Regions from separate parts of the Homo sapiens genome. Here region 1 is linked to region 2. The links come from fine-mapping of genetic effects on plasma protein levels. Region 2 holds a variant in brackets. A gene starts in the other region. All regions are shown on their forward strands.

Region 1 (2,931 bases), not on the chromosome of region 2:
CTGGGTGATGAGATCATTTATACCCCAAACCTTAGTGTCAGGCCATATACCCATGTAGCAAACCTGCACATGTACATTAATCTGTAATAAAACTTGAAATTATAAAAGAAAAAATATAAATAAAATGAAATATAATATCAAAGAATTGACAGAAATACTAACAAATGTAAGAGTAGCAGCAATTAAAAACCATAAACAATTCACAAGACTAATAATACCCTATTAAAGTGCTCTCCACTAAAATTGCAGGAAATTCAACCATTTGATTATATCTCAAGCAGAATTAGTTTTGCAATATTACCACATATTTGGTAGAATGTTGACTCCAAGGCCTCATAAATTTTAGTAACAATAATTTTACCTTATAAATAATACATGTTAGTAATCCTTAAAAACTTATCCATCAGTAAGTTACTAGGAAGTAACCCTTAATTAGGGGTAAAGATGAAAGCCTTTAGAATAGTCTGTTGTCAGCCTTAAGTAGAGACTTACATTTCTAGAGTGTTTTGCAGATCATTAAGGGTACCATAAATGGTAGGAGTCCCTAAGAACAACTATATTTATATATAAAGATTACTAATAGTCAAATATTGTTCCAAATTAAACTATGGAGTCATTATTTATCCTTCAATGTATTTTGTTAAACTGTATTTGTTTAGATATATATTTGCAAAAGACAAAAGCCTCAAAAAACAATCCAAAGCAATTGTTAGAAAATGTGTTGGTAAACTTTAGATATAGACCTATATGCTATTAATATCAAGCAAATGTTTCATTAGGGATTAATTTAGCATATGAGCTTATAAATGAGAGTGCAACAATAGTTAAAAACCAGTGAGTAAGAGAAGTTTTACATGCAAAATAAATGTCTGTGTATCATTATCTTCTAATATATTCAATTTCTCAGAAGACTTCTGACCAAAATATGTGTTTGTAGATACGTAGTCAAAATGTTATTAGTACCTTTAAGTTATCAACTGGAAATACATTAGATATAGCTTTATGTATTTGGTTTATATTGGAATAATGAACAGTATTATTAAAAATGTAATTTTTTTCTTTGTGGTAGAATCTCAGTATTAGAGTTTCCTTCTCATTATTATTAATAATCTTAATAATTAAATTTATATTATTTGAGCATCCACATCCATTTTTTCTAGAAAATTTCTAAGCACTTAATAAATTATAACCTCAGACAAATATTGGTTTTAAAAACTCACTTACCTCATCAGGTTTTGGATCATATCTTATCAGAAAGCACAAAGTAATGCTGAACTAAACAACCTGATGAATAGTCCTATAAGAACTGGATCTTCTGATTTGTGGTGAAATCATTTAAGGAGAATAAAAGCGATATGTTAATTAAATAAATTCAAATGATTTTTACACCAAAGTAAATTGAAATGCCATTCCATACTCTACTAAACATTCATAGGCAATGTTATTGCATACATACTTATTCAAAAGCTATTTATTTCTAAGGTACTTACCCCAAACTGACTTCTGATTATTCACTGGAATGTTACAACTAAAATACGCTTGCTGGAAAACTCTTGTACATAAACACCTGAGCGATCAAGGCCAACTCCATTTATCTTGACCATTGCTTGATTAATTCCTCTAGAACAAAAGCAGGTGTTCACTACATTTGTATTAAGAACTAACACAATCGGGTTAATGATCAACTGATGAAATGTGCAAGAATTGAGAAAAAAACAATTATAGAATTTTTTAAAAGTATTAAATTTATATTATTATTTTATCCATTATTTTGCTTCTTTTAAAAGTTGCACAGAATTTGAAAGGATGCGCTACTGGTTGTAAATTTGCTAGTAATTAGTTCTTTTTGTTTCTCACAGGACTCCTACATCAGATTACCAATGCACTTTGTCATAAATATTTCAGAATGCCTATGAGAAAAAGAATAAAGCTAAATCAAGTCCAGAATACAGAGACAAATCACTGCTGCATTGACAGAGTTCTCAACATTCATCAAATTATACAATAGTCAGAGGAGTTTCCTGTGGATATAAGGTCCATTTGAATCCTTAAGAAAAAGAGTGGATATTGAAGAAATATGTTCTTTATTCTGAGCAGAAAGGCCAGCAAAAAAGATAATGGATTTGCCAAAATATATCAGGACAATACTATTAGCCATAGGTAATTGGATGATAAAAATTGCTGTTACCTTTATGTGCTTTTGAAACTCTACATGATTTTCTTTGCAAAAAGGTCATTAATAAAAAATTGCATAATTTAATGGGTTTCATCTCATTTTTGTAGTTCAAATCAATCACCTCAATGGCAATCAGATATTAAGCACATTGTATTATTTATCTATAGCCTTTGAGAAGAGAAAAAAAATTTAGTTCACTTTTAATTAAATATCTGTTGATCCCCAAATTTAATACTATTTCTGATAAACTCATGTAAAAGAAATAAAGTGAATATAGATAGCTTTAAATGGAATTCATTTTTAAAAACTTGTCAGAGGACCCTGTTAACATCTTTCCATGTCCTAACATGGCTATAACTTAAAAATAGGCCTGAGAATAGATCATTATAGGCCATAATCTACTAATTAACTAAAATTTTTTGATTTCCCATATAGGCATCTCCAAATGTTTTCTAGATCTTGAGTTTTATTCTAATATTACCTACTCTATCATAAGCACACTCTAGTGTAGCTTTAACTTAACACAGAGATAATTTTCCAAAAAGAGTTGTGCAATACAAGAATACTATCATTCTACTTGCTTCACACTGCAATACATAAATATTAAGTCTGAATGTCAAGACTATCATTCAATCAATGCTTTTCTACCCATTTACTGACACCAGCAAACATATATCACCAGTACCCTTGGCTACCACATCATTATGTCTGTACACTGCTCAGATCACAATGTGATTTATCCAGAAATAGTCCAT
Region 2 (2,931 bases):
AATAGCCAGCTGCCAGGATAGCCTGAGAAAGGGGTGGGAAACAGGGGCTGGAGAGAACAGAAGACTTGGGGCCTTTTACAGCAAGTGCAAACTTTCACACCTGTCGCTATAAATCAAGAGGTTTATGGGGCGGCAATATTTACACTGTAATTAAAAAATCATAAAGCAAGCACCCTTTCAGGTTGTGGAAAACAAAACTCTCAAGTTCTACAGCAGCGGCTGTTAATCAGTTACTCCTAACGATCTGCTGCCCAGATTGGGTGCTTACTCGGCCACAAACAGCAAACAGGACAATGGGAGAAAGTGGGATTTGCACACGATAACGGCTTTCAGAGGTGGCTAGGACTTGGCCAGAAACCTTTCAGTTTACTGCATAGTCTCTATTGGAGCTTGGGAAAATATTTTCTGTGAACCTAGTTGGCAGCTTAGGTTTCCTTCTCCCCTGTTCCCATGTGGAACTGAAGTCCATTTACTAAGGTGAGTATGGTGGCAGTATTAGGCACTGTGGGTAGGGTTAGTGGCAGACACAGAATTTAACATGGGGGAATAACTTACCTATGGAAGTGGCAGACCCACCACATGCACCTGGAATTGCAGACCTGAAAACTGGGCAAGCTGAAGTTCACCTCAGTCTTTTTGGTGTCTCCTGCCCTTCTGGTAGGTCTTCTTTCCATCCAGAGGCCAGGCCCGCCAGTTGCTGTTGGGCACACAGAACAGTCCAGGCCAGTCCTTCAGGCTCCTGCCTGTTTCTGCACCCTTTACCGCCCTCTCATTCCCCTCCACCTCATTTCAACCTCAGGGGCCTTCTTTCAGCTCCTGGAAGGAATGGTGCTGTCTCACCATCAGGGCCTCATATGCTTTCTGCCCAGTATTCCCCTGCAGCGTTCCTTCTCATTTTTCAGATCACTGCCTTAGAATGGTCTGCTCTAAATTGGAGAAGCCATCCCTGTTTTTTATCCTTTCTAAATTTGTTTTTCATTGATACATAATATTTGTACAATTCATGGGGTACATGTGATATTTTGTTACACGCATAGAATGTGTGATGATCAAGTCAGGATATTTACGATATCCATTACCTCGAGTGTTTATCGTTTCTATGTGTTGGGATAATTTCAAGTCCTGTCATTGTCTTCCACAGCACTTTCCACAATCAGTGATGAGATACTCATGCTTTCACTTTCTTCTTTTTCCTCACCGTGTTGCTCAACCATGGCATGGCTCTTTCACACACCCCTGAATATACAAGGCCTTGCACAGTGTCTGGCATATAGAAGCTTAATTTACACTTGTTGAATGAATGAATGAATGAATACCAATCAATTGTGCTTCCCAATTTGGCTTTCCAAGTTTGACAACTGGGATGAAATATCCAGAAAGAATTTGTCCTTATTTTCTTTCTCTGTCACTACCTAATGTGGTTTATACAATATATAATTTTGTTTCCTTCCTTCTCTAACCCTCAAAGTGGAAATTCCCACTATTGTGGGAATTTCAACAGCTGTACGTATGAGGAGGAAGGTCACATTTTGGCAGGCATTAATTTACACCACACGGCAAATACTGTCGGACATGGTGGAAGAATTCCTGGCCTTGCTTCCAGTAGACCTGATTTTGAATATTGCCTTATATACACATTAGAGTAAATCA[T/C]TGCACCTCTATGAACTTCACTTTCCTTATCATTGCAATAAATACAAAATGAGCTATCATTTAAGGAAATCTTTTGCAAATGATCAAGAAGACATAATTATTTCATCATTTTTATTCCACTGATCATAAGGTTCTCCTGCATTAGGCGGTGGTCTGGGGTTCCCTGTATACAATCTGGGGTCATGAAATTCACCTCCTTTCCTACCCTCCTTTGCCACCTGGAGTAATCTTCTCAACTTGTGCCCTCTGTGAGGACTCTCCCCTGTTTTCATCCACTGGCACTGTGCTTTTCCTTTGGCCCTGGCCATGTGATTACTTGTAGGAGGATGCTTCCAAGGCCTCTGAGAGTATCAGTAAAAGTGCTAACCCTGTCACCCTCCACTGTTCTTGTTTCTTGGGTTGTATTCATTTTATTAGCAAAATACACAGGCCTAGTGAAATGTAATAGACTTCTACCTCCAAAGATAATTAGAAGCCCATTTATTTGCCAATTCAATGAAAAGGCAACCACAAAAGGAAACCAGCTTTTATCAGCACATGCTCACAGCTCAGATCCCTGTGGTGTTGTGCTGCTCTGGCACTTGTGAAAAAAATAAATCCTGGGAAAACTAGGTTGCATTACGCTTCCTGTTAAACACAGAAAAGAAACAGCTGATGTCTGAATTTGCTAATTTCTGCTGATTCAGTTAGAGGGCAATGCACTCAGCTAACGAGGGATCTATCCAGGTATGTGAATTAAGGCTTGAAAAGAAAGTGTAGGTTGTAATCAGTGCATCCAGCACTGAGTTGGAATCATTATTTAGTGAGCATTTTCCAAAGAAATTAGAAAAGATTTCCAAGCTTAACAGAGCTTTCTGGATTCTTCCTTCTCATGGACATAATATAACAAAAATACAATCCCCTGCCCCTCCTTCAATCCTGGGATTTTAAGCAATGCTCAAGTGACCTTGTTTTCATGTTCTGTGGAAATAAGGTAGATACTGTTATCTCACCTGTATTAATACAGAACTCTGTATAACAAAGAAGTTGTAATTTATCAAAGGTCACACAGTGAGTCATTGCTGTAATCACAAAGCAAATGTTCAGGTTCTCATCTCCTTGGCAGCAAATGTTTTGTTCTCTAGGTTAGACTATCTTCTCTAAACTCTCATCATATGCCACTGCCTTCCCCTGCTGGTCTATCTCCAAGAAAGATACACACACACACACACACACACACACACACACACACACACACACGCTTTACCTATTCATCCCATCCCTCCCCTATCCTCCCAACTA

Alleles and levels. Alleles are on the strand shown, and positions count from the first base shown. The strength of an association depends on the size of the effect and on how common the allele is.
For the plasma level of the protein whose gene starts at base 1,530 in region 1, T is the high allele of the variant in region 2 and C is the other (moderate association).

Evidence for each region. PIP is the chance, under the fine-mapping model, that this variant and not a neighbour inherited with it causes the effect. The UK Biobank Pharma Proteomics Project read protein levels with antibody pairs (Olink). The fine-mapping took linkage between variants from a reference panel, not from the people measured, so its PIPs are less certain.
Region 1: SERPINI2 starts here. The variant in region 2 is fine-mapped to the plasma level of the SERPINI2 protein (UK Biobank, PIP above 0.99).

Annotation. Positions count from the first base shown.
Region 1 is chr3:167,472,513-167,475,443 of GRCh38, forward strand. SERPINI2 (serpin family I member 2) reads right to left here and starts at 1,530. Exons shown (of 9, transcript NM_006217.6): 1 at 1,491-1,530. It overlaps LOC105374197 (a long non-coding RNA gene), which reads left to right. Exons shown (of 3, transcript XR_924683.3): 3 at 1,860-1,948.
Region 2 is chr2:67,037,701-67,040,631 of GRCh38, forward strand. No RefSeq gene overlaps it. Among named protein-coding and RNA genes, the nearest start is that of LINC01828, 47 kb to the right of the region's middle. The variant T/C (reference allele first, on the strand shown) is at 1,651.